Linked DNA regions of Homo sapiens. The protein of the gene in region 1 purifies or fractionates together with the protein of each later gene. This does not show direct contact. Each region holds a gene or a part of one and is shown in the gene's direction. Other genes may lie near its edges. The genes, in order: PRELP, COL14A1, TRIM68 and AMD1.

Region 1 (7,980 bases):
GACTCCAACTCCAGCACTGCCTACCTTAAAAATGAGGAGGTCTCCATCCTGGCTAACATGGTGAAACCCCGTCTCTACTAAAAAATACAAAAAATTAGCCAGGCGTGGTGGCGGGCGCCTGTAGTCCCAGCTACTTGGGAGGCTAAGCCGGAGAATGGCGTGAATCCAGGAGGCGGAGCTCGAAGTGAGCCAAGATTGTGCCACTGCACTCTAGCCTGGGCGACAGAGTGAGACTCCATCTCAAAAAAAAAAAAAAAAAAAAAAAAATGAGGAGCCCAGGCCGGTGAGGTGGCTCACTCCTGTAATCCCAGCACTTTGGGAGGCCAAGGGAGGAAGATTACCTGAGGTCAGGAGTTCGAGGCCAAGACCAGCCTGGTCAACATGGTGAAGCCCCTTCTCTACTAAAAATACAAAAATTAGCCGGGTTTGGTGGCGGGCACCTGTAATCCCAGCTACTCGGGAGGCTGAGACAGGAGAATCACTTGAACCCTGGAGACAGAGATTGCAGTGAGCCGAGATTGCACCATTGCACACCAGCCTGGCGACAAGAGGGAGACTCTGTCACAAAAAAAAAAAAAAAAAAAAAAAAGAGGAGCCCAAATGTTCACCAAGAGAGACTGTCAACTAAATAAATATTGGGGGGTGGGGGCAGAGAAAGAATCACCAAAAGGACCAATATGATCATCTTCAAAAGATACCTGTACCACTAAGTGAAAATAAAAGTGCATAGCTGCTTATTTGTTACTAGTGTGTACCTTAAATAAATCTGTGAGGACACAAGAAACTGGCGCACGGTCCTCTGGGGGAAAGTGAGTGATGAGGGGATAGGCAAGGGAAAAGACTTTTTCCCTATGCAAGCTCTTATACCTCTTAGATTTTCAATCAAGAGAATGTATTACCTATTCAAAAAATAATAACCTTTTTTTAAAAAAAGAGGGTGACAGAGAATCTCCTTGTTCAACCCTCTTAAATTCAATGAAACAGACCCCTACTGAGCACCCAGGGTGTGCCAAGCCGTTGGTGGGTGCTGTGGGTTATACCATGATGAACAGGATGCTGTCTCTGCCCAGCAGGGGCCCACTCACCCCAGGCAACCCAGGCCCCCCAGGCTGGAGGGTGGGACAGGCTGCCACAGGACTCACACAGCTTCTCCCCCGTTATGCATTTGCCCAGACCCCACCCACCCTGGACTGGGAGCCTCAACTAGTACAGGGTGAGGGTCCGTCCAGGGCCAGCCTCTGTGGGTCCTGATGACCACTGAGCAGTTTGAGCCAAACTCTTCGGGCCCACACTGCTCCTTCCCGGCAAAGTCTCAGGACCACCACGGGGGAGGTGGGAAGCTTGAGTACCTCCCTCCTGTACTTCTATGGAAAGAGTATTACACAATTGTGTCCTTTCTTCTCTTGCTTTAAGCACTCACTGCTTGTAACCAAGGCAGCAATTACTGTGAGGGTCAAAGAAATGGTAAGCCCCCCAGATGGATTTCGGTCTGGATGGGAAGTGTGGGCAGGTCCCAACTCTGCAAATGCAGCTGAAACCCACCAACTTGGAGAGCCCCCTCCCTCTGCTGCCTGGCCCTCCCTGCATTCTGTCTCCTAACCATGCTGCCCCTAGCCCTCTCCTAGGACCAGGCAGCAGTAGCAGCAACAATGTGCATATCTGGACTTCTCACCATATGCCCCAGCATTCACATCATGTGCCTGTGACTGTTCTCTGGCTACACCAGCAAGAGATAAATACCTCCCCTGGGTTGAAGACACACCACTGGTGTCCCTGAGACTCTAGGAGAGTAGAGGAGGCTCTTCCTGGAGGATCCACATAGTCCCAGGGTGCATGAAGCCAGTGAATCACAAAATACTCCCCTGCCATTGCTGCCAATGATCCTTGTGTTATCTTGGGTATACCCTGGGAGGGAGATGGGGCAGATGAGAAAACCAAGGCTCGTGTGCTGAGACCTACTCACCAGGTAGCTAGAGAACAGCAGAGTTGACATCTTAATCCAGGTTTCCTAACCCCAAACCTTATACTCTCTCTTCACAGTATTGTTGGAAGAGCACTGAGAGGTCATTTGGTACAACCTCGTGTTTTATAAATGGCAAACTGAGGTCAGAGAGGGAGAGAGACATCTTCAAGGTCACACAGCATGCAATGGGGCAAAGCCAGGTCCCAAGAACCTGGACCCCTGTCTACCAGGATGGCGACTGTGTTGAACTGGGAAGTGCTTGTCCTGACTAAAGGTGTTCAAATCCTTTTTTTTTTTTTTAACCAATGCTTCAAAATATACCAGTAGGGTTTGTGGGAGTGGGGAACACAGAAGAAACAAGATTGGCCATGAGTCGGTAATTGTTGAAGCTAGGTATTAGATAATGGGGATATTAATACTATACTGTGTAAATATGTATACGTTTTAAAATTTCCACAAAACTTTTAAAAAATTAACGTGCTGTCAAAAAAAATTAGGTACTCAAGCCATATTAGGTCCACAAGCCACTGATTAGCAAACTCTATTCTGGACACTCCTGAATATCCTGCTGGCCATGTCTATACTTCTTTCCAATTCTCTCTGCATAGCGTGGGATGCGGGAGATAGGAGAGGGAGGAAGGGAGATAACTGGCTTAGGCAGGGCTTGGAAGTTGGCCATCCATTCCCGAGAGCATAGACTCTTGGGATTTGGATGGCTGTCATACAAATGGATACAGGTGACACCCCTGCCCCTGCCCATACTCCACACTCCTTCCAGTCTGTCTATCCCCACAGACACTCTACCCATCATCCCTGTACCTCACTGTACTTTGCTCACCTTATTATTTTTTGAGACAGGGTCTTGCTCTGTGACCCAGGCTGGAGGGCACTGGCGTAATCATAGCTCATTACAGCCTTGGTCTCCTGGCCTCAAATAATCCTCTCACCTCAGTCTCCTAAGTAGCTGGGACTTCAGGTACACACCACCACACCCAGCTAATTTTTAAATTATTTGTACAAACAGGGTCCCCCCATATGGCCCAGGCTGGTCTCGAACTCCTGGGCTCCATTAATCTTCTGCCTTCGTCTCCCATAGTGCTGGGATTACAGACATGAGTCTCCGTGCCCAGCCAGTCTTTTTTGCCCTCTATCATCTACCACCCACCATACCAAGGGAAACAAGCAAATCTGGCGTCTGATGTTCCCGGCCTGCAGAAGACGCCATATCCCATCTGGATGAGAAATGAAGCACATGAGCAGCCTGGCAGAGCCACAGTTAATGTGAACCTGGAGAGGAACCGTGCTGTCTTCCAGCAAGACCTCACCAGCAGGGCGTGAAGCCATGAGATCTGGGGTGGAAGGGGGTTGGAGAAAGGTCTGGGTTTTATTTTTCCTTCTCCTTTTCTTAGGCTAATTACCATTCATCGCAATCCCTTTCCTAAACCCTAATATCTTCCCAGTTTATAAAGTGCTCTCACATTTACAATATTTAATCTTCCCAACCCTGTGAGGTCAATATTATCCATATTTTGTAAATGAGGAAACTGAAGGTCCTCATGATCAAGTGATTCACCTAAGACCATAGCTTGTGGGTGGCTGAGCCCAGGGCTGCAGACCCTAATTTTAATGTTCTCTCCTCTACCCCATATTGCGGAGGGCAGGCAGGCAGTCCCCTGTCATGGGGCTCTGCAGCTCTCCATGGAACCAATAATGGAGAAGAAAATTGCGTTGCATTTTCTAAGTAGTCAGCTGGGATGGCAGGAATTTATTTATTTTATTTACTTATTTATTTTTTGAGACAGAGTCACGCTCTTGTTGCCCAGGCTGGAGTGCAGTGGCACGATCTTGGCTCACTGCAAGCTTTGCCTCCCAGGTTCAAGCAATTCTCCTGCCTCAGCCTCCCTAGTAGCTGGGACTACAGATGCCCGCCACCACACCCAGCTAATTTTTTTGTATTTTTAGTACAGACAGGGTTTCACCATGTTGGCCAGGTTGGCCTCAAACTCCTGACCTCAGGTGATCCGCCTGCCTCTGCCTCCCACAGTACTGGGATTACAGGCGTGAGCCACTGTGCCTGGCCATGGCAGGAAATTTTGATGGGCATCTACTTACCTGCAAGTGTGTTGTGCTTTCTTAATTGAGGGGCATTGTTAGAGGATTGTTAGAGGTAGTGGTGTTACTTGACTGGGTCTTCTGGGGTGTTGATGTGCACAGGGGAAATTTGGATTTCCCATCACTTTGTGTGATGACCACACAGCCCCTAAATCTCACCTAAGTGTGATATGGAGAAGCTGAAAGAAGCCACTACATTGTCCACATGAGCTAGGAACAGTGACTTTAGGTCTTACATTAAATCTTAATTCTGCCTTAACTTTGCTGTGCAACTCAGGCCAGACTTCTCCCTCTCTGGTTCTCAGAACAGCCCTGGCAGCCAAACCGAAGTTATCTCCTATGCCAGCCTGAGACTCCACTCCCTTTGCAACCTCCTGGAGAAGATAACTTAGGGAAAGACTGTCACTGCTCAGAGGAAGCATCCCAAACCCCTCACTGGTTTAGGAATTTAACACTACCGAGCAACGGCCCCAGAAGGCAAGGCGATTGTTAGGAGGAATTAAACAGGCTAGTGCTGGACCCAGCCATCCAGTCCTGGCTTACACAGAGGTTGCTTTTCATGCCTTTTCACTCTGTTAATTTGGCTTGTTTTCCAAACATGGGTCAAACAACCCCTCTCCAGAAGCGGCAGCAGCAGAAGGAAATGTTATTAAAAATGAGTCTGTTAGTGGGAATGGTGTGTGGATGAAGTCTTTGGGAGTTTTGGCTGCCAAATAAAGACTTTATTGTCATTCCTCCTTTCCCAAGCTCCCTCCCTCTCTCCTCCCCTCCCCTCCCTCCCTCCTCCCTCCTCTCCTCCCCTCCCTCCCTATGATCTGCCCCTCCCTCCCCCCAAGCTAACCTCCCCACCCCAATAGGATCTGGTGGAAGAAAAGTCAGGCAAACACAAGCACGCACACACCACTGGGAGATCAGATCTTCTAGCTGGCTCTCTGCTGCCACAGCTCCGCCGAAGGGAGGGGGTGGAAGAGGAGGACTAAACTCAGAGCTGAGAGGAGAGGCAGGTGTGTGCAGGTAAGCCCAGTTGGGAGATGGGCAGGAGACTGGGAAGAATCTTTCATCCAGTAAGTTTCCTCCAGCTCTGTCCATTTATTGATCTAGTCTCTATCCTCTCACTCCTTCCTTCCTCCCACCTCTTTCTCCTCTCAAATGAGTTCAAATTTAGTCTTCCTAACTTCTTTCCTATAGCCTCTTCCTTTTCTTTTCATCACTCTGTACCCCTATATTTGCTTACTGCAAAAGTTAAGCTTTCCTGCTGCAGATGTTTGTTGTAGCACAGAGAGCCACGCTGCACAAAGTGTTTCTACAGATCAGGTGTTTCCATAGAAACTGGACTCCAGAACCCATTTCTTTGCACCTTTTGTGTATTGTCACACATTGTGGAAGTCACACACATCACACGGAGGCTGCACGTTCACTACCATCACCCCACACGACCATACAAAATGAAGACATCCTGTCCATTCACCTCTGCCCTCTGCATCTGACATGCAGAGCTAGACCACATCATCACCAGACACCAGCAGACACACACACACATGCATGCACACATGTTCCCTGCATCTTGTCTCTCGCCCTCTCACACACACCTCCCTAGCTGTAAGAGCAAAGATAAAGTACGTTTTCCCACTGAGATGGCAGAGCCAGAAGAAAATCTTGCATCCCAAGTCCAGGCCGAATAGGGAGGAGATAAGCAAGAGCGGGAGCTGGAAGGGTTTCTTCATTATTTAGGGCTTCACTGGGTAGGAGGGAGAGAAAAACGGCTTTTTCCAACCTGCACAGTGTCTTCTCAGCAGCTTTCAATTTCTGTCTCACTGGTCCAAACCACTTGGCTTTTGGAAAGAAAGAAGAAAGCGACCCAGTTCCCAATCCTTGAAGGTCCTAATTCCCAGCTCTGGGGACAGTTCATTTTTTTATTTTTTTTTCCTGCAGGCAGCCAGAAAAATATTTTTCTTTAAAGCCGTTCTGAAATTATTCCAACCATTTAGGTTGGCAAAAGGTCCTGTGGCAGAGGAGAAAAAAAAAAAAAGGCAGCAGTTCCTTAAGCAGTTGGGGAGGGGAAAACTGAAGGGCGGCCCCTCTCCTGCTCCCCTGCTCATTCCTCTCTATTAATAGAGAGGGTCTGTCCCAAGGCAGGCGGGGTGTAGGGAGATCAGGGGTCCCACACACAGCTGATCTTCACAGTCACCTAAGGGCTGGAGAGGGAGGAGTGTGGAGGGCTTACTAAAAATACAGATGTCGGCTCTCACTGCAGATCTACTGAATCGAGACCCAGGAATCTTGTTTTAATACTTCAGGAGATTCTGATGGTCCACCAGGGCTCGAGAATCAGGGGCCTGAGAGAGAGCTTTGCTGTAATTTTTAAGCCCAAGACTCCGGCAGTGTTAGCTGGGCAGAAGGACTGTGTCCTGGAAAAGGAGCACCAGAGTGTCCCAAATAGGCCACCTCTTTTTTGGGGAGTGGGAGTAAACAGGGAAGAGCTGTCTCCCTCTCTCCTCCTTGCAAGCACAAGCAGCCATATATACCACAGAGGAACATTCCAGTAAGAAAGTTCCCCCAAGATGGCTCCACAGAGCTTCTGTTTCCCCTCACCTGTTAATCTGCCTGCCCCAGGACCCCAGGAGCATGTGCTGGGCCCTTCCCCTGACCCTTATAGGTCCCTGCTCCTCCTTCCCAGCAGCCACCTGTCTGGGCTCTCACAGAGGGTGAGCTGAACACTTTCTTCATGCCCCCTCCACCTCCCTAGTGGGCAATCCCATTTATTGGGCATGTGAGTGAAGCATTTCAAGGCTGGAAGGGGCAAAAAGCTGGGAGAAGTCAAGAATCGCAGTGGAACTCCATGGCCCACTGAGGAAGGCAGACTTGCACCTTCTGTGGCCAGTGTCCCCTCACCTGTTGCAGAAAGCATCGGTGAGAAGTTGGTGAATTAGAAAGACAGAACAAGCTTTCCCTAGGTGGCTGGGGACTTCCAGAGTCTCCTCAGTTAGTTGTTTCTGAGACCCAAGTGTGATCTCACAAGCCACAAAGGGGAGGAAGTTGCTCTGTGTGGAAGAGCTGGTACCCCACTCACAAGGATCCCTGCCTTCGAGCAGTGCATGGGGGCTGCCCTCTAGCCAGGCTGGAGGGAAGGAGACCCCATTACTTTGAAATAATATCAACAAGACCTTAACATTCAGAAAACACTCACTTTGCATGTATTAACTCATTTAACCCTCAAAACAGAAAAGAAGGTGTTAGTATCCCCATTTTATAGAGCAGAAAAGCAATTGCTTTGCCTAAGCCTACCTAGCTAAGCATCTGAATGAAGAACTGCAGGATTGGGTCTCAGATCTATAATCACTCAAGGCATCAGACACACTCTTCTAGGCTTTCTTCAAGGCTTGGAGATGCTGGGGGAATGGGGCAGAGGATATGGTAGGTGGCGGGCTGTCAGAGAAGAGTCGTCTCACCCTGGTTTCTTCCCCACCGCTCAGAATGGAAAACTTTCTCTTCTAAACTAGTGGCCTGAGGCCAGAAAATCTTCATTCTGTTTACACTTTGCCTTGTGGTAGACACTGGGGAGACAGATGGTCTCTCCATAATAGTGTTATTTTTATTTTTAGCACTTTTTGATCTGTAGTGCATTTTAAAGCTGCTAACTGCACTTGCTTCTGACAATTGGGTAAGGAATATAGGTATAGGGAAGATTTTTTTATTCCCATTTTACAGATAAGAAAACTGAGGCCCAGAACAGGGTTCGCATCACTAGGTAGTGGTGGAGGGGTGAGAATCTTCTCTCCTAACTAGTATGCACCACAGGCTCTCCTCCCACTGCCCCAGGCAAGCTCATCCTTGTATCGTTTCACCTTCCTAGAAAGGGGCATCTTGAAGTCATCATGCCCCCATAAGGCTCCTTTGTTATCTCA
Region 2 (7,024 bases), on another chromosome or scaffold:
AGGAAAATAATCATTCTCCTTGACTTCTTCTGTGAGTAAATAAAAAATGGCAGGGATCCAGTTACTTTTCTGTATACACTAAGCTTTTGTTGTAGACCAAACTGCATCCTGTTCCTGTGACGTGTGTGTGTGTGTGTGCGCGCGCGTGTGTGTGTGTGTGTGTGTGTGTGTGTGTGTGTTGGAAATGTTGGCATATTTTTTGAGTACTTACTGGGTATCTGCCTTTTTCTCTTTTAGAAACACACTTAAGTCTCCCAGTTACTTGGGGAAGAAAATAATATTCCTCCTTTAGCAATCACTGAGCTTCAAGGATAAAAAGCACCTTGTATGGGATCACAAAGACAGCAAGTGACAGAAATATGATTAAGAAAAGTCTATATGGGGCCAGGCACAGTGGCTCATGCCTGTAATCCCAGCATTTTGGGAGGATCACCTGAGGTCAAGAGTTCAAGGCCAGCATGGCCAACATGGCAAAACCCCATCTCTACTAAAAATATAAAGATTAGCTGGGCGTGGTGGTGGGCACCTGTAATCCTAGATACTTGGGAGGCTGAGGCGGGCATTGAGAATATAAAAGAGAGTCTATAGGAAATTCTGAGCGTTCTTTAAGTCAAAGTTTAGAGCCTAGACTCCCCGTTTCCTCCAGGTAATTTTTTTATTAGTGGTCTTGTTGCACTTTTCTCTCTATGGGCCTTTGTCGGAGCTACCCTGAAAGGTGTCTCTGTGAATTTTAGAGAGCAATGTTTTGCCTCATTTCTCCTAGAAATTATCTGAGTTGCTTACAAAAATTGGTCCAGAGGTAGGTTGTGCTTTGCTAAGTCCATTGCAATGTCTTAGGGTGTGTCTTTATCTAGGAGCAGTCAGAGGGCCCATTATTGGATAAAGATCTATTTCTGGGTGGCCTTTTGTCTCTGGCTTTTGCAAAGAGGAGAACATTTAATTGATGTCTAAAAATGATAATTTGCTGCAGGTTGTTTGCTTCTGTTCTTCCTTCACTTCCCAGCCCTGTCTCCTGCCATGTGCTGGCACTGTGCTAAGCATTCAAAATACAGTAGGGAATAATATGCTTTGGCAAATGGAAATGCCAATAGCTAACTACGGGGTAGTGTTCAATGCTGCAGAATGGAAAATAAAGATTACTACTATAGGAAACAGGAAGAGCACCTGACCCCAGACTTGGAAGATCAAGGAAAACTTCCTGAAGGAAAGGATGTCTAAACTGAGATGTAAAGCTACCCTTTATACTGATTACAGATGTACATTGTAGTTAAAAACAGTCTCCCATTTCTTTGACAGATGAACTATGTCAGTGTTTGAAAAAAATGAAGAGAGGGAAAAAAAGCCAGGTGAAGAACATTCTTGTGTCAAGCAGCTGTCATTCCAATTTGCCATACTTTTGGAATGGCTCTACCTTCTGTCATTTAGAACATACAGCATGAGTTTAATACTGATTGAGCAGCTGTATAACTGAGGCTAATTTTCAGTCAAATTCCTTGCGTTTGAGTGATTCACAGGGATGCTGCTAACCTAATATAGTTTTTCTGTAAATTAGAAAAAGGAAGCCTCTCTGTGCAAACCTATGGCATGGGAGAAGAAAACAGTTCTGTTTTATCTGGATAACACAGCTTTGCACTGGGGCACACAACTTGGGAGCAGAGTGTCTGCCAATTTCAAGTGTCATTGACCCTAGGCGAAGTGTAAATTGTTTAGTTCATTAACTGCGAGCTGTACACACATTAGCCCTGATCATTCAGTCATTAACTATTAAATCAATCAATATTTACTGATTGCCTATGTGTGTTGAACTTTCTTGAATATGGGTTAAACTGCCCATCTAGATGTCTGATAGTGCCCAAGATCTAGAAGGTTAAAACAGTGACTGAGGCCATGAAACTAGCTGGAGAACCTCAATAAGATGAGGGACAGATGCAGTTCATCAGAGGCCTGGTTGGTGAAGGATCAAGTTTGGTGCTACTGCTGGTTGGTGCCCATCCACAAACTGTTACCTGCCTCTGATAAGACAAAAACTACACGATGATGTAAATCAAATATGTCAATAAGCGCACTGTTCACCAAGCACACTGTTAGTTCAACGGAGATTATCATTATTTTTTCATAGCAAAGCTTTTCTGACGAAGGAAGCAAAAGAATACATAGACTTGCATATTGGCATAAGCTCCTTATCTCACTGAGGACCAGTAACAGTTCATAGACCAGCTACTTTGAGTAGCACCAATCTAGGCAACATTGGCCCACATTTGGCCAGATAGGTCATCTTGTATCCTTTCTGCCTTTATACTGTTTTCTTTTCTCTCTTTTCCCCTTATTTTTTCTTTGTTTCCTCTGCCTCCTCATCTTCTTCCTCTTCATCATTTTCCCTTTTCTTCTTCCTTCCCTTATTCCTACTTTACTGTTGCTTTCCCCTTCCATTTGATATTTCTCTCTTAAACAAAAATCACTGTGCATTTTATTCAGCTTTTTGTCTTTTAAAAAGCAAAATAAAGAAAGCCTACGTGTACAAGGAAAGAAATGTAAAATGGAAACATCACTAACTTGGAGAAAATTAAAAGAATTTAATGGTAATTAAAATAAAAATATGCCAATAAATTAGAAAGCCTGGATGAAATGGATTCTTTTTTTTCCAACTTTTATTTTAAGTTTGGGGATACAAGAACAGGTTTATGACATAGGTATATGTGTCATGCTGAAGTTTAGGGTATGAATGATCCCATCACCCAGGTAGTGAGCATAGTACCCAAAAGGTAGTTCTTCAACCCTCACCCCCTTTTTTTTCCTTCCCTCGCTATTAGTCCCCACTGTCTGTTTTCTCATCTTTATGTCCATGTGTACTGTTTAGCTCCTACTTATAAGTGAGAATATGTGGTACTTGGTTTTCTGTTCCTCTGTTAATTCACTTAGGATAATGGCCTCCAGCTGCATCCATGTTGCCGCAAAGGACATGATTTTGTTCTTTGTTATGGCTGTGTAGTATTCCATGGTGTATATGTACCACATTTTCTTTATCCAGTCCACCATTGATGAGCATCTAGGTTGATTTCACATCTTTGTTATTGTGAAGAGTGCTGTGATGAACATAGGAGTGCATGTGTCTTTTTGGTAGAATTATTTATATTCCTTTGCGTATATATCCATTAGTGGGATTACTGAGTTGAACGGTAGTTTTTTAAGTTCTTTGTGAAATCTCCAAACTGCTTTCCACAGTGGCTGAACCAATTTACATTCCTACCAACAGTGTATAAGCATTTCCTTTTCTCTGCAAATCTGTTTTTTTTTTTTTGACTTTTTAATGATAGCCATTCTGATTGGTGTGAGATAGTATCTCAATGTGATTTTGATTTGCATCTTTCTGATGATTAGCAATGTGGAGCATTTTTTCATGTTTGTTGGCTGCTTGTATGTCTTCTTTTGAGAAATATCCGCTCATGCCCTTTGCCTACATTTTTAATAGGGTTATTTGTTTTTTGCTTGTTGAATAATTTAAGTTCATTATAGATTCTGGATATCAGACCTTTGTTGGGTCCATACTTTGCAAATACTTTCTCCTATTCTGTAGATTGTCTATTTACTCTCTTGATAGTTTCTTTTGCTATTCAGAAGCTCTTTAGTTTAATTAGATCCCACTTGTCAATTTTTGTTTCTGTTGCAGTTGATTTGAGGACTTAGTCATAGATTCACTGCCAAAGCCTGTGTCTGGAATGGTATTTGCTAGGTTTTCTTCCTTTTTTCTTCCTTTCTTTTTTTTTTTTTTTTTTTTTTTTTTGAGACAGAGTCTTGCTCTGTCACCAAGGCTGGAGTGCAGTGGCGCTATCTCGGCTCACTGCAACCTCTGCCTCCTGGGTTCAGGCGATTCTCCTGCCCCAGCCTCTCTAGTAGTTGGGATTACAGGCATATGCCCCACCATGCCCAGATAATTTTTTATATTTTTAGTAGAGATGAGGTTTCACTGTGTTAGCCAGGATGGTCTTGATCTCCTGACCTCATGATCCACCCGCTTTGGCCTCCCAAAGTGCTGGGATTACAGGCATGAGCCACTGTGCCCAGCCGATATTTGCTAGGTTTTCTTCTAGGATTTTTTTATAATGTTAGATCTTACATTTAAGCCTTTAATCTATTTTGAGTTAATTTTCATATATGGTGAAAGGTAGGAGTCCCATTTCATTCTTCTGCATACAGCTAGCCAGCTATTCCAACACCATTTATTGAAGAGGTAGTCCTTTCCCCATTGCTTGTTTTTGTTGACATTGTTAAAGATCAGGTGGTTGTAGGTGTGTGACTTTATTTCTGTGTTTTCTAACCTGTTCCGTTTTCTGTGTGTTTGTTTTTGTACCAGTACCATGCTTTTTTGGTTACTGTAGCCTTGTAGTAGAGTTTGAAGTTGGATAATTTGATGCCTTCAATTTTGTTCTTTTTGCTTAGAATTGCTTTGGCTATTGAGGCTCTTTTTTGGTTTTGTTTAGAATTTTTTTTTTTTCTATTTCTGTGAAAAATGATGTAGGTAGTTTGATAGCAATAACATTGAACCTGGATATTGTTTTGGGTAACGTTCTTTTTTTTCTCTTTGAAACAGAGTCTTGTTCTGTCACCCAGGCTGTGTTTTGGGCAGTATTCTTATTTTAATGATATGAAATGAGTTATTTTTAAACAAAGTACAAATTACTAAAACTGATTTTTTATTATACAGGAATTATGAATAAAACATTAGACACAAACATGTTGAAAAAGTTGTTAAAAAGTAACCTCTCCAAGAGTACTGAACTCTCCCCATGGTTTTGCAATTGAATGCTAATGAAAATGTAAAAAAATAAAAATACCGTGCTATTATAACTGTTCCGGCCGGGCGCGGTGGCTCACGCCTGTAATCCCAGCACTTTGGGAGGCCGAGACGGGCGGATCACGAGGTCAGGAGATCGAGACCATCCTGGCTAACACGGTGAAACCCCGTCTCTACTAAAAATACAAAAATTAGCCAGGCATGGTGGCGCGTGCCTGTAGTCCCAGCTACACAGGAGGCTGAGGCAGGAGAATGGCGTGAACCCGGGAGGCGGAGCTTGCAGTGAGTTGAGATCGCGCCACTGCACTCCAGCCTGGGCGACAGAGCGAAACTCCGTCTCAAACAAAAAAAAAATAAAAAAAAAAAAAATAACTGTTCCAAAGTACAGTATAGAGAAAGAAGAAAAAATTCTGTTATTTTTTATAAAACTGGAAAAAATAATACTGATATCAAAACTTGACACAGCATAATAAAAAAGAAAAGCTACAGATTAATTTCACTAATATTGATGTACTTATTGATATGAATAGCATATTAGTAAATAGAACCCAAAAGAATAATTCACAATGATCAAGTTGGGCTCAAATTTTACAGGTAAGTTTAGTATTAGAAAATGGATTAATATAATTGTCATGTTAAAAAGTTAAGAGAAAAAAGTTAGAGGATATTCTTCATAACTACTACAATAATTTAACATTTTATTTCAGATTAATAGCTCAATAAAGTTTACACAGATGGAAATTTACTAAACATGATACATTTATATCAGTATATTTGTGTTTGTCTTCTCTAACAGTCTGTCTAGCCATGTGTCTTCAAAATCAAAGTCATGCCAAAGAAGCATTGCTATTAAAAATAAGAACAAGACAAAGTTTCCAGGATAAATATTCTGGAGATAGTAGCCAAAGTAATAAGAAAAGGGAAAGAAATGAAAAACATAAAATTTGGAAGGTAAGAAGAAAGATATCATCTACAGAAAAAATTAAGGAAATCAATTTTACAAACTTTAAGACTTTGAAAAAATGTTAAACTATTCAAGGTAGGTTACAAAATTAATATAAAAATAAAATTGCTTTACTATAATTAATAAACAACTTGTTTAAAAGTGATTAAGAAAAATCCATTAACAGGAAATAAAACATATATGTATATAATATGTAGAAATAAACTCAAAATGTCAAATTTATATAACTCTTTAAAGTGCTCATGAAGAAATGAAGATGACTGGCTTGAATAAACAAAGAATATATTCTTTTTTGATGTAAAGATGGACTATTGTATAAAAAAGGTCGATCTACCTAAATTGGTCTACTAATTTAACATGATCCCAATTTTGAGGAGTTTTTGGTACCTAGTCAAAAATAATCAGAAAGAAAACTTAAAAGAAAATATTAAAACATATTATAAAGTTTTGATATTTACAATTACTTAATAGTCACACATAAATAGAAAATCGATAGATTCGAAAATAAAATATAGCATTGTTAACCTGTGATCAAAAGGTAAATTATTCTATAAGTGGTATTGGACTAATTGGATAGACATGGAGAATAAAAGTTAAAACTTTTTCATTTACATCAAAATAAGTTTTAGATGATCAAAGATTTCAATTTAAAAATTGAAAATGTAAGAATACTAAAAGAAAATATAGGAAAATGCTATAATTCCAAAGGAGAAAGAGACTTATATGCATGTCATAAACCATAGGAGATAAAAAAGAAAAAAAATAAATATTGGGCAACGTGTTTTATCATATATGATGGAAAAAGAGCCACATATTAAATACAAAAATTTCTCATAAAAAGATGAACACTCCTAGCTGAGTGTGGTGGCTCACGCTTGTAATCCCAGCACTTTGGGAGGCCGAGGAAGTCAGATCACTTGAGGTCAGGAGTTCGAGACCAGCCTGGCCAACATGGCGAAACCCTGTCTCTACTAAAAATACAAAAAACAGTTGGGTATGGTGGTGCATGCCTGTAATCCCAGCTATTTGGGAGGCTGAGGCATGAGAATTGCTTGAACCTGGGAGGTGGAAATTGCAGCGAGCCAAGATTGCACCACTGCACTCCAGCCTGGGTGACAGAGTAAGTGAGATTCCATCACAAAAAACAAACAAACAAACAAAAAACAGATGAACAATCCTATAGAAAAATGACCAAGGATATGCTAGAGAGTTCACCGAACAAAAGACAGCTTAAGTAAATGAAAGATGTGCAGTCATACTTTTAGCCA
Region 3 (7,024 bases), on another chromosome or scaffold:
ACATCCAGGAATGGGGCTGAAGGGTGACCTGTGTGAGCGCCATGGGGAAAAGCTGAAGATGTTCTGCAAAGAGGATGTCTTGATAATGTGTGAGGCCTGCAGCCAGTCCCCAGAGCATGAGGCCCACAGTGTTGTGCCAATGGAGGATGTTGCCTGGGAGTACAAGGTGAGAGATGGAAGCTGGCCACTCCAGTCTAACCCCGGCCCCAAGTTGGCTGTTTCTAGATCAAGGGCTTGACCACCAGCACCACAGACTGAGAGCTAACTCCTTTGGTTCCTGACACCCAGAGATCCCTGGAATCTGATACAGAGAGCTATACCTTTCCTTGTATTCATGACCTTCCTTGATTTCCTGCTCTCCCACTTCCTCTACACCTACATCCTAACAGGGCTCAATTCCTAACCCAAGGCTGATTTCAGTAATGAGAATGTGAAGGAAAACAGTTTGGGTTTTAACTGAGATTCTGGATGCCTTGGATGAGTTTAGGCATGAGGCTCTTATATAGATGGTCAAGGCTACACCTGACCTGCAAACTCCTCCTAGCAGTGCTGCAAGTAGTCATTTGGCATTGAATGGATCACTTCCCTCCTTCATTTTATAGACAAAAGTGAGGCTTAGAAAGTTGAAAACATGGCAATTTATTTTAGAGGTGGAAAGAACTATGGGTGAGTCACAAGATTGAGAGAGGTCATCTGATATAGTCTTCTCAGGTCCTTTCTGACTTCAGGTCCAGTTAGTGAAAGGAAGATCAGAGGCTGTGACTCAAGTCTTCTTGCACTTTCTCCTCTCCCAAGTTTGTTTGTTTGACAAGTCATCTCTGACAAACCTGGGACTCCTTTTTTGTAGCTAACCTCATCAACTTCCAGCTTCTGGGCTTCTCTTTACTCTTTCATCAGATGCCCATAATGACATCTTTATCGGAACCATTATCTCAGTGATTCTGTGATCCAGTGATCCAGCATTGGTCTCAACTCTCTTTTTTGGAGTTGAAATAGGAAGGTGAGAGTGTAAGACAAATCCCCTGAATTAGCTTTTTTCCTATATGGGAGGGATTTCTAAAATATGAAAAGTATTTACTAACTCATTCTGTTTTTGAGACTATTAGAAAAGGGAGCTAGTATAACATAGGGGTAAAGGGCTGGATGAAATCCCAGCCCAACCATTTATTACCTGAATGACTTTGGGTAGGTCACCCTCTAAGCCTCAGTTTTCTTGTCTATAAAATAAGGTTAATACCAGCCTCAGAGGATTGTAAGTATCACATGCATATTTAGAGCTGAAAATATACCTGACACTTGATATATTTTAACAAAATAGTTGCTATTTTGTTAAAATAGCAGAATTAAATGGTGTTTCTGCACAGTTTATGCTTTTCAGTAGAAATCCCTTGCATTACTATTCTAGGAAAGTGCTTCTTACCCTTAATAAGCATATGAACCACCTGGGAGATCCATCTAAAATTGAGATTCTCATTTGGTAGGTCTAAAGTAAGGCCAAGATTCTGCATTTCTAACAAGCTCCTAGGTGATGTGGATGCTGCTGATCCACTTGAACCACATTTGGAGTAACAAGGTTCTGGCAGACAGTAAGATAAAAATAAATAAGATAAGGATAAAAATTGGCATGGAAAGGAAAGTCCAAGGTACTTTTGTGGAGAGGTTGTAAATGGACCTTTTCTTCCAGTTTACAGACATTTAGAGACTGTGGGAGTTGAAATGATTCTCAGCCCAGAGAGCTACCTCGGATGTCATCTGGGCAGAGTCTGCTTCCTCTGTGGCATTCCCTTTCCCCACAGCCTTCACTGTGGCCGGTTGCCTGAAGGACTCTGGTTCTCCCATAGCCTCCCAGTGCTAGGAAGCCTAGGCTGCCGGAGGTGGCCTCATGAGGGTTTTGTCTCTTGCAGTGGGAACTTCATGAGGCCCTCGAACATCTGAAGAAAGAGCAAGAAGAGGCCTGGAAGCTTGAAGTTGGTGAAAGGAAACGAACTGCCACCTGGAAGGCAGGTTGCCTCGTGGGGAAAGGAGTTTGTGTCAGTCGTCCTGTGTGGTCCTGGAGCTGGCCTAGGGTAGCATTCTCATCACTGTGAGGCAGAATGTGAGGCTTGAAATCACAGAGCCTAGGGTTCTAATCCCTGCTTTCTCTGTCCCAGGCCTTAGGTAGGCCACGTCACCTCTTAATTCCAGTTTCTCCATGGGGATGTAGGGATAACCTCTGGTCTTGTATCCTCCTATATGAGAAAGGAAAAGCACATGCTCACGTGTGTCAGCTCACAGTGGCATGGCTTATATCATGCTTGTAAAGCAGAGTTTCTCTTTCATTTTCCCAAGTTAGAGAATATTTGCTAAGAGTCTGGTTATTAAAATATTGTAAAATCACCTCTGAAATAAATTTGAGGCCAGTAAGTATCAAACTACTAGAACTTTTGATCAACAGAAAGTAACACTGAACCAATCTAAAACAGCATGTTGAACAGATATAATATCAACATGAAAATGAACCACCTAACAGTGTAGTTAAGTTACACTGCCTTAGAGACTTAAATGTAACACATCTTGTCATTATTCTGAAAATGGAAAATAGTCTAGAGCATGTAGTATTAAGATAATATCCTGGACCCTACTGGAGTCAATAAGAGTGACAATAGAGACCTAGAAGCATGTGGTGGAGCTGGGAGAACAGGAAGCTAGGAAAAATAGTATCCTTTATCTTTGCCCCTGCATAGCCTGTCACGTGGTTGGTACCATTGCAGAGTATGTGTGTATGCATATGTCAGTATGCTCGATACTGGGTGACTGAAAGTATCAGTGCTGATTTCCATCTTGGCTCCACAGATACAGGTGGAAACCCGAAAACAGAGTATTGTATGGGAGTTTGAAAAATACCAGCGATTACTAGAGAAAAAGCAGCCACCACATCGGCAGCTGGGGGCAGAGGTAGCAGCAGCTCTGGCCAGCCTACAGCGGGAGGCAGCGGAGACCATGCAGAAACTGGAGTTGAACCATAGCGAGCTCATCCAGCAGAGCCAGGTCCTGTGGAGGATGATTGCAGAGTTGAAAGAGAGGTCGCAGAGGCCTGTCCGCTGGATGTTGCAGGTGAGTAGTAGGTTTTCCTGGTAACCCTGAGTGACAGCTGAAGATAGACTGAGACTCCAGGAGAGAGCATCAGTTACCCTTCAGTAGGGACTGCCAGCCCTCTGCCAGCTGGTCATGGATCCTGTGTTTCCCCAGCTAATACCTGCTGTTTCCCTATCCCTGGCTGGTGGATGACCTGGTCTGTTGTAGCATCATAGGTGGGGCAGTGCTCAGGCAGCTCTGGCGTCATTCCAGGCCCTCTCCTCTAGCCCGAGAGTCTTGAGATGGAGCCTGAAATTGGCCAGTTCAGCCAAAGCTCAGCCTGCTCTTCCATCCTTCCATAGGCTTCTCCTTACCTCTGCATGGCATCTCTCCATTCTTGGTATCTGTCTCCCTTCCCCTAGAGAAACTCCCTGCCAGTTCGATGTCTGTTCCCTCTGAGGAATAGCACTTACTCAGATGCTGCATTTTTTTTTCTCCTTCCAGGATATTCAGGAAGTGTTAAACAGGTATGTTCTCACCCTTGGAGCCTCTAAGCAGCCCTGTAGGGGATAGTGAGGCCTAACTAGAGCCAGAAGTAGGGACGGAGCACAGACTCGGTGCACACAGAAAAGCAGGTGCTGGTCCACAGTCTCGTCCCACTTACATGGTAATGGCTAAGGAATCTTTGTTGATCTTTCCTTTTTCTTCTTTGTACTTGATCAAATGTATATCAAGTGAAGCTGTAAAATATGTGGTTTCAAGTAGATTGCTCAAAGAGGATAAAAGACTGCCCATGACTCCTTCATGTCCGACAGAAAATGTGTGCACTTCTTCCTCTCCCAGAATCAAATATACATCCAACCCTTCCCATAGCATGGGCATGCAGGTGTTCTCACCTCTGCACACAAACAGCTTGAGGCTCAGCCAAATAACCGTAACCATCATGTCTCTGCTTTGCTGGGGTTCACTATGTCCCTGGCCAAGCCCCTCTTCCCTGTACTAAGATAAGGCCCATGTGACAAAGCCGGGACTCCTGGCCCTGAGGTTCACCCTCCTCTACCAGGAGCAAATCTTGGAGCTTGCAGCAGCCAGAACCAATCTCCCTGGAGTTGAAGACAGATTGCCGTGTGCTGGGGCTAAGAGAGATCCTGAAGACTTATGCAGGTAATGGATCCTGGGGGAGACTGTAGTGGACAGTGGGAGGGACCCCTCCCAGAGATAGAAAATGGTTCAGTGCCCTCTGGGTGCTCCATCCAGCCTCACCCCTTCATCATTGAGAAATCTGTGGCTGAATTTATCAGAGGGCTCTCACCCATGTCCCCTGGCCCTATATCACTGTTACCAACCAGGACCTTTTCTTCTAGCTGATGTGCGCTTGGATCCAGATACTGCTTACTCCCGTCTCATCGTGTCTGAGGACAGAAAACGTGTGCACTATGGAGACACCAACCAGAAACTGCCAGACAATCCTGAGAGATTTTACCGCTATAATATCGTCCTGGGAAGCCAGTGCATCTCCTCAGGCCGGCACTACTGGGAGGTGGAGGTGGGAGACAGGTCTGAGTGGGGCCTGGGAGTATGTAAGCAAAATGTAGACCGGAAGGAGGTGGTCTACTTATCCCCCCACTATGGATTCTGGGTGATAAGGCTGAGGAAGGGAAATGAGTACCGAGCAGGCACCGATGAGTACCCAATCCTGTCCTTGCCGGTCCCTCCTCGCCGGGTGGGAATCTTCGTGGATTATGAGGCCCATGACATTTCTTTCTACAATGTGACTGACTGTGGCTCCCACATCTTCACTTTCCCCCGCTATCCCTTCCCTGGGCGCCTCCTGCCCTATTTTAGTCCTTGCTACAGCATTGGAACCAACAACACTGCTCCTCTGGCCATCTGCTCCCTGGATGGGGAGGACTAAGAAAGCTACCACCCTAACCAGAGAGGCTTGGAATTGGGCCTGGCCCCCATGGGGCTTGGAGGACCGAGCCACTGACAGGTATCCCCTGAAACTGAGCTGAGCCCAGTATCCAAGGATTCCTCTGTCTGATCCTTTGGTCTTTGCTACCAGGCTGAAGTCTGTCATGAAACCACTTATTTTAAAAAGCAGAGGCCCAGTCAAATGAGCATTGCATCCCATGAGGGAAGCACGACAGGGCTGATGGTGAGGATCAGAGCAGTTCTAAGGTGACTCGTTGGGGTAAGGATCAGGACTTTGTCCATGTAGTAGCCAACCACCCTCTTCCCTGATTCCCGTCCGGTGTCACAGTTCAGTCAGTGAGGATGATGAAGTAGATACAGTCTTCAGGACACCATTAGATGGGCTTTCCCAATAGGCCAAAAAAATGCTGCGCATACCCAGAGCTGGTTGTTGTGCTGAGGCCAGTCAGAGGATGCTTCCCCTGAGGTTTGCTATAACTAAGCAACCTTTATGTGACTCTCACCTTCTGACCTCCTGGCAAGAGAAATTCAGTGCAGCAGGGGGACACAGACCTGCCCAAGCCACCCCACTGCCGTTCCCTCTCTGAGCACAAGCTGGGCAAATCACTGTCCCTTGGACTCCAGGAGACCAGTGTCCTAGTCTTGCCTTTTTTCTCTAAGTGGCAGGATCAGAAAACCTGCGAGCTTTAGTTTGTATTTTCACTTTATGAATGAGGAAACTGAAATGGCCTTAAGGGAGCAAGTTATTTCTTTTTTTTTGACACGGAGTCTCACTCTGTTGCCCAGGCTGGAGTGCAGTGGCACGATCTCGGCTCACTGCAGGCTCTGCCTCCTGGGTTCACGCCATTCTCCTGCCTCAGCTTCCCGAGTAGCTGGGACTACAGGCGCCCACCACGACGCCTGGCTCATTTTTTTGTATTTTTAGTAGAGACGGAGTTTCACCATGTTAGCTAGGATGGTCTCGATCTCCTGACCTCATGATCCGCCCTCCTCAGCCTCCCACAGTGCTGGGATTAGAGGCATGAGCCACTGCGCCCGGCCCCTGGAGCAAGTTATTTCTTACAAAGCTGCTGAAGGTAAGATTATCAAAATTATAAAGCATTTTTCACACTCAAGTGAAACAAGGTTGACAAACTCACTTCGCAGGTCACATGCCTATACATCACTTATTATATTTGGGTCTGAAACTTCTCACATGTTTGGGAGGTTTTATGTGTCCTCATTGGGAAAATGGGTGTAATTCAGCATAAAACCTCATATGATTGTCCTGCCTCATGGAGCTGTTGTATAGATCCCAGATCCATCCCATGATTTGTTCCTGTCTGAGGCATAGAGGCAGGCAAGCCGTGGATTTTGCACATGGTGACTTTCCCACTGTGCCATGATACAGTCTGCATCTTATAGCAGTGCCTTTGTCTCAGGGCCTCTGCTGGCAGTCTAGACCTTTTGGGCAGAAAGGAGCTTCAAATGGCTGTGATAAGGAATATTAAAAATTGTGTTTCTACTTTAATTGTATTGGCTGTTCATGTATGTAGGAGTTAAAATAGGCCAAACTGGAGAAATAAACGCATTCTGTCCACCATGCTTCCAGACTGCTTCTTGAGAATCAGTAGTAGAAGGGGAGAAGTTTCCATCAGCTGCCTGGAGGGGAATGAGCTAGTGAGGCACAGACCCTGGTGCTGGCCAAGGGTTGAGCCTGCCTCAATTAGAGGAGCATCTTTGTCAGGGGATTCCCTGGGGGTAACTGAGAAGTAGGTCCCTAGGAAGGACTTCAGTTCTGTCTGTGGACAATTGGGACAAAAGGGTTAAGGGAAAATCAATGTTGTTCTTTGGCTATTAAGACAAATCTTGGAAGGTTCCTAGAAACGGAGGATTGTTAGCTGATAAATTCATTCGAACTTAGAATGAAGGAAGGAATGAAATGGCCTCATTTGTAATGTACTCTTTTTGGTTGGTTTGATTGTTTTTTACATTTATAAGCCTGTTTGGGTACTCTGATTACTTGTTAGAAGACTCGTAAGGTTAAACAATCCAC
Region 4 (7,024 bases), on another chromosome or scaffold:
GTGGCAGGATCATGGCTCACTGCAGCCTTGACCTCCTGGGCTCTATTAAGATGTGAATAAACTAAAAGTAGGTTAAAAGATGAACAGATGGAATTAAACAAATCTGTTTATAAAGCATAATAAACATAGGGACATAAAAACGATTAAGAGAATGAAAGGCTTAAATGTCCAAAGAGAGCATTAGTATTGATGCTAAAGACAAGGATAACAAGATAAGGATATGAGGGAGAAAAAAATCCTGGAAAAATAGCTTTCCAAAACTAATGCAAGAAGAAATGGAGAACCCAAAACAGTCCTAGAACACCTAAATAACTTGAATCAGTCAATCATCTAGGCCCAGATGATTTCACTGGAGTGTTCTGTATAATTCAAGGGAGAAAATATCCAACTTTTTTCACGCATTCTTCTGGGAAACAACATACTTCCCTCGGTTTTCTCATCCCAAAGTCTGAAATATTTTTTTCTCCTACACGATATTTACCTTTCATATTTAGATCTGCAATCCATCTGGAATTGATTTTGTGTGTGGTGTGAGGGAATACACTTTAAACAAACTTGGCTCATCAGTCCAAGCTTTAATGCTTGGAATCTTTTCTGAATGTACACCTTTTTACTAAACACTGCTTCCCTCTTGTAGACCATTTAAGATATTTTATCTTAAGTGAACAAATTATGTAATACTGAGAAATTTAACAAAGAAAAATCTTTTATGATATAGCTTGGGTTAAACAATACTGTTGGAGAAAAGCAGCAGTCCAGGTATATCCAGATGAATAAAGGACAATTAAGGGAGAGGCGGTTTCTTAGGGGTAACCTGCAGTTTTCTCTGATTTTTCAGATTTTACGGATGTTGAATAAAAATCAGTGACCATTTAAAAAATGGTTTAGTTGTTGGATCAAAGTGCTGTAACAAACAAAAGCTTTTTATAAGACATGGCAGCTTTAGGGAGGGTGAGAGTAGTAAGAAGGAAATCTGTTAGAAAATAGAAAATTTTGCTGAGAAAAGAATGATTTTTCAGGACTGGAAATCCTATTACTGTGCTTTACTCAGATTTTATAAACTAAAACATAATTTTTAGTAAAGGATTGGGGCAGTTGTAAAGATAGTCATACCTCAGCTTAACTTTCCCCAAACTCATGACTTATTTGACTACATCATTATGCAGCATTATTGCAATATCAATAATTTACATTGAAGGAATTTACAACCCGTTGCCAAAAAACCTTTTAGTGTAATGTTTCAGAGTAGAAATGCTTCCTGCTAAAGAATAAAGCTTCTCGTTACATTCCTCCCAGCAGTTTCAAAAAGGTTTCATGGCTGGGCTTGGTGGCTCATGTCTAATCCCAGCACTCTGAGAGACCAAGGAGTTTGAGAGCCCAGTCTGGGCAACATAGTGAAATCCTGACTCTACAAAAAAAATTGAAAAATTATCTGTGCGTGCTGGTCCATCCTGGTGCGTGTCTGCATCCCAGCCACTCGGGAAGCTGAGGTGGGAGGATTTTTTTGAGCCATTGGGGGATCGAGGCTGCAGCGAAATGAGATTGCACCAGTGCGCTCCATCTGGTGGCAGAGTGAAACCCTCTCAACAACAACGAAAATATTTCAACTGTTGTTTACAAACCATGTATCTTTAAGAAGCACATGTTGAAAGTAGCAGAAAACTGAGAGGAGTATCCCGATTTGGGGTAAAAATTTGAGATAGAGAAACAATAATGTGATGATAATAGGTTCATATCTTTGAACAAAAGGGAGGAGGCTTATTTCTCAGGTTATCTGAATTCACTGCCGCAGGAAGGCACCCTCAGAATCTAACTTCTGGTCAGTCTAGCTTTACTCAAGAATGATCTGGTTTTAGGATGCCTTTTACCTAAAGACTGCTTACTACCTGGGGTAGAGGCACCCTGATGAATGTACTGTAATGAGAGCCTCTAAAACAGACCTAAAAATATGAGGTAAGAGCAGAATTGAGAAGCTGCAGTGACTTTGGATAAATTACCTGAACTCTGAAACCAGCTGGTTTTACATTAGGAAGTAATGAGTAATCTAATGACCTGGAAGCTTTTCAAATAAAAATTTGCAGGCATCATCCTCAGAAAGTGTCTGACCTAACTGGGTATGGGAATAGCATCTATGTATTGAGTTTTCAGGTGATTAGAGCATAACCCTGCACTAATGGGATCCTTCTGTATTTAAGTTCTTGGTCTTTTTTTTTTTTGGACAGTCTCAGTCACCCAGGTTCGAGTGCAGTGGTGCCATCTCAGCTCACTGCAACCTCCGCCTCCCAGGTTCAAATGATTCTCCTGCCTCAGCCTCCCTAATAGTGGGTACTACAGGTATGCACCACGATGCCTGGCTAATTTTTGTATTTTTAGTAAAAGACAGGGTTTCGCCATGTTGGCTAGGCTGGTCTTGAACTCCTGACTTCAAGTGATTGAGCCATCGCCCCTGGTCCCTTTGTCCATTTTTTAATCACTTTTTGTTGAGTTGTGTGTAGGTGTGTCTTTTGCTTTGGATATTGACCCCTTATGAGGTGACTTGCAAGTATTTTATTCTGTAGGTTGTCTTTTCACTCGTTTCTTTTGATGTATAGAAATGTTTACATTTTAGGTTTTCAAGTTCCATTTGTCTGTTTTTGATTTTATTGTATGTCATATCCAAGAAATCATTGCCAAATGTAATGCCCTGAAGCATTTACCCTATGTATTCTTCTAGGAGTTTTATTCGCTGTTAATGTTTAGGTTGTTGATCCATTTTGAGTTAATTTTTGTTTATGATGTAAGGTAAAAGTCCAACTTAATTTTGTTTGCATGTGGACATCCATTTTTTCCCAGCACTATTTGTGGAAGCGATGTTTTTCCCTGTTATGTAGGCTTGGGACTCTTGTTCAAGATAGTTGAGCTCAGTCATTTACTTCTTTTTTTGAGACACGCTTGTCTTGCTCTGTCTCCCAGGCTGAAGTGCAGTGGTGTGATTTTTGGTGCACTGTAGCCTCCGCCTCCTGGGTTCAAGTGATTCTCCTGCCTCAGCCTCACGAGTAGCTGGGACTACAAGCCTGCGCCACCACACCTGGCTAATTTTGGTATTTTTACTAGAGGCGGGTTTCGCTATGTTGGTCAGGCTGGTCTTGAACTCCTGACCTCAAGTGATCCGCCTGCCTCGGGCTCCCAAAATGCATTTAATCAGGCGACATAGAGAAGTCTTGTTATAATATAATTATCTTGTCCCTGTAGACATTTCTAAATTCTATTTTTATTAGACCTCAGCCTCTAAGAAAATGTTTTAAATATAAAATGTGGCATGCCACTAAAGTGTTGTTTTTCAGACATACAATTTGTGTGCTGTTATTAATATAGAACATCTATTTTTCTTTGGGATCATTTATCATGATCTCTGATTATATTTAATATTTTAGTATCTAGTCTTTAAGTGAAATTAGGGTATCTCAACCTCAGCATTCTTGACATTTTGATTCAGATAATTCACTGTTGTCAATGACTATCCTGTTAATTATACCGTGTGTAGCAGTGTCCCTGGCCTCTATCCACTGCATGCTGGCAACACCACCACCACCCCAGTTGTGATAAAAAATGTCTCCAAATGTTGCCACATGTCTTCTGGGTGGCAAAATTACTACAAGTTGAGAACCACTGAGTTAGATCAGAGAGGTGGCATTTAAGATGAGAAAAAGGAATTCAAATCAGGAAATACTCAATCTACATATTTCTTTGTGTTTTATAACCACCTAAGAATTGTGTGCTTCGGGCCAGGCATGGTGGTGCATGCCTGTAATCCCAAATCCCAGCACTTTGGGAGGCCGAGGCGGGTGGATTGCTTGAGGTCAGGAGTTCGAGACCAGCCTGGCCAGCATGGTGAAACACCTTCTCTACTAAAAATACAAAAAAAAAATTAGCCTGACATGGTGGCAGATGCCTGTAATCAGTCCCAACTACTCGGGAGGCTGGGGCAGGAGACTTGCTTGAACCTGGGAGGCGGAGTTTGCAGTGAGCTGATAGCATACCACTGCACTCCAGCCTAGGTGACAGAACAAGACTGCATCTCAAAAAAAAAAAAAATTGTGTGCTTGAATAGCTTTATAATAATTTCTAATGACTAGATCAGTATTACGTGAGCTGTAATGTGAACAAATCCCAAAATCATCTTGCTATCTTGCTTCTCTTGATTCTGCTTTATATCCATCAATTTGATTTATTGACTCTTTAAATAGCAAGGATTGCCAAATAGATCAGTTTTATAAATAGTTTATAATAGACTAGTGCTTCAAAGTCTCAGTTTGTAGTGTACTTGGGAGTGAAGCAGAGACAAGACCACTATCACTACTGAGCCTGATAAAACATTCTAGCTTAATACTATCTTTTCTATTTTTGACACACAGTCTCACTCTGTCGCCCAGGCTGGTGTGCAGTGGCACGATCTTGGCTCACTGCAACCTAATTTTAAAAATGGCTCTGTCGACTGTATAAAGCACTTTGTCTTTTCCATCATTAATTTGATCAGAAAGCAGACCACTGAAAACCTTTCCTCCAAAACAAGAGTCAGCAAACTTTCTGTAAAGGACTAGGGAGTAAATTTTAAATTTTGCAAGGCAGACAGTCTGTTGCAATTACTCAGCTCTGCCCTTATAGGGAGAAAATAACCATAGTCAATGTATAAATGAATGGGTGTGGCTAGGTTCCAGTAGAGCTTTATTTACAAAAGCAGGCCATTTTTTCCCACAGAAATGTGATAGAAATAATTTGTGCTGAAATTTTCAGCTGTTGCAGAGTTTTTCACCTCTTTTATGTACATGTATAGCATTGTATTGACTACTTTTTTCTTTCGTCTATTTTGCCCTCTGATTTATTTTTCTTGAGCTTAGTAGCTCTGGTAAATGCCTTTATCATCACTAGGTTGATAGACAGTTTAACTGTTTGTCCTAGGTTGCTTAAAGTAATTGCTTTCTTTTGATACTATGATTGAAAAATTCTGATTACCGGAGCATTACTATTAGTTGAGGAAAGGTTTGAATGGAGAATTTTATTAACTGATGATGAGTGAGTATAAGAGCATTTTGAAGCCAATGGGTTGGCACGTGCCTATAATCCTAGCACTTTGGGAAGCTGAGATGGGAGGATCTCATTAGCCCAGGAGTTTGAGACCAACCTGGGCAACATAGGGAGACCTCATCTCTACAAAACAATTAAAAATATATTAGTAAGGTGTAGTGATACATGCCCTGTGGTCCCAGCTACTTGGGAGGCTGAGGTGGGAGGATCTCTTTGAGCATGGGAGGCCAAGGCTGCAGTGAGCTGTGATTGTGCCATTGTTCTCCAGCCTGGGTGACAGTGAGACTGGCTCAGAAAACAAAAGGTTATTTCTCTGCCATTACAGAAGAAGCATGCTACACTGTCTTCTCTTATTAAAATGCAATTAATAAACCCTGGACAGAATGCATTGTTGAGCAGCTATCCAAGGACTCTGAGAAGTAAATTTTAGCAGGTGAAATGGAGAAGAAAGCCAGAACTTTAAATTCCACTGAACCAGCAGTGAATTTCCTGTTTTTTTTCCCCTGTGGTATCTCCTCGCTGATTTCTCCTGGGCTTGCCAGAAACCCAGAACTGAAAAGTAGGGGCAGGCAAAAATAGTTCCAAGAAAGGCTCTCTAGTTCTCCTCTGCAAAGAAAGAATGAGAGGCCCCTTTGAATCAGAGTGGAAGAAATCTCTTTTTTGCTTTTGTTTTGTTCTATTCTGCCCCAATCCTCTTGTAGGCCTTTAGCAGCTGTGGCAGTTAGGCAGATGTCTAAAACAACGAGAGAAGGGAATCATTTTTTGTTTGTTGTTTGTTTTTGAGACAGAGTCTTGCTCTGTAGCCAGGGCTGGAGTGCAGTGACACGATCTCGGCTCACTGCAAGCTCCGCCTTCCGGGTTCATGCCATTCTCCCGCCGCAGCCACCCAAGTAGCTGGGACTACAGGTGCCCGCCACCATGCCCAGCTAATTTTTTTTTTTTTTATTTTTAGTAGAGACGGGGTTTCACCTTGTTAGCCAGGATGGTCTTGATCTCCTGACCTTGTGATCCTCCTGCCTCCCAGAGTGCTGGGATTACAGGCGTGAGCCACTGCGCCCGGCCAAAGCCCTATTTTTATAGGTAGTGGATGAAGAAGAGTCCTTCCCCTATCCCCTATGTGAGTCAGGCATTGTCAGAGAGATTATGGAAGGTTGAAGAAAGTAAACCTATAAAGTTTTATATGAACACTCCTTAGCCATTTTGCATGGATCTGACCCTAAACAGCACATCAGAGGCTTTGAAAACTAGAATACACAATAGACTGCCTCTCCAGGGCCAGCCTGGCCATTGGGTGGCAAATAAGTGGGGCAGATGCAAATAACATAGCAAAGGAGTTCATAACAAACCTGACACTGGAACCATAACACAACCTAGAAACATTGAGTAAAAACTTGAAGCCTAAACCAAACCAGATTGTCTGCTGAAAGTTTTTAAAAATCAAGACCTAGAATGATGTAACATGTCAAAATATCCAGGATGCCATCCTAAATTAGTCAACATACTCAAAACCAGGAAAATCTTAACATCTCAAAGGAAAAGACAGCAGACACCAACCTCAAGGTGACATGGACCAAGACTTTAAAGTATCTGTGCTACAAGTTGTAAGGGTGAATACTTTGTTTTAAGAGAGGGTCTTGCTCTGTTACCCTGGCTGGAGTGTAGCGGTGTGATCATGGTTCACTGCACCCTCCATCTCCTGGGCTCAAGCAAACTTCCCACATCAGCCTACCGAGTAGCTGGGACTACAGACCTGCACCACCACTCCCAGCTGCCTTTTTTCTTTTTAAGAGACTGGCTATTGCTATGTTGCCCAGGCTGGTCTTGAACTTCTGGTCTCGTGATCCTTCCTTCTTGGCCTCTGAACCACAGTGCCTGGCCACAACAGCCTTTAAAAAAAGAGAAAACAAAAATAAGAAAGGAAAAGACTGTTACACTGTTTAGTTCAGCCATGGAACGTGTT

What was found.
Region 2: the proteins of PRELP (region 1) and COL14A1 purify together in Homo sapiens (affinity purification with mass spectrometry; 3 studies listed by BioGRID and IntAct, with this or other methods). This does not show direct contact.
Region 3: the proteins of PRELP (region 1) and TRIM68 purify together in Homo sapiens (affinity purification with mass spectrometry; 4 studies listed by BioGRID and IntAct, with this or other methods). This does not show direct contact.
Region 4: the proteins of PRELP (region 1) and AMD1 purify together in Homo sapiens (affinity purification with mass spectrometry; 3 studies listed by BioGRID and IntAct, with this or other methods). This does not show direct contact.

What each region holds. Positions count from the first base shown.
Region 1 is NC_000001.11:203,470,850-203,478,829, forward strand, and holds the start of PRELP (prolargin precursor), read left to right. Parts: upstream 1-4,956; 5' UTR 4,957-5,089; intron 5,090-7,980. UniProt on the Homo sapiens protein: May anchor basement membranes to the underlying connective tissue.
Region 2 is NC_000008.11:120,128,084-120,135,107, forward strand, and holds part of COL14A1 (collagen alpha-1(XIV) chain isoform 1 precursor), read left to right. Parts: intron 1-7,024. UniProt on the Homo sapiens protein: Plays an adhesive role by integrating collagen bundles. It is probably associated with the surface of interstitial collagen fibrils via COL1.
Region 3 is NC_000011.10:4,598,221-4,605,244, reverse strand, and holds the end of TRIM68 (E3 ubiquitin-protein ligase TRIM68), read left to right. Parts: coding exon 1-166; intron 167-1,904; coding exon 1,905-2,000; intron 2,001-2,832; coding exon 2,833-3,093; intron 3,094-3,558; coding exon 3,559-3,581; intron 3,582-4,117; coding exon 4,118-4,218; intron 4,219-4,418; coding exon 4,419-4,969; 3' UTR 4,970-6,573; downstream 6,574-7,024. UniProt on the Homo sapiens protein: Functions as a ubiquitin E3 ligase. Acts as a coactivator of androgen receptor (AR) depending on its ubiquitin ligase activity.
Region 4 is NC_000006.12:110,877,765-110,884,788, forward strand, and holds part of AMD1 (S-adenosylmethionine decarboxylase proenzyme), read left to right. Parts: intron 1-7,024.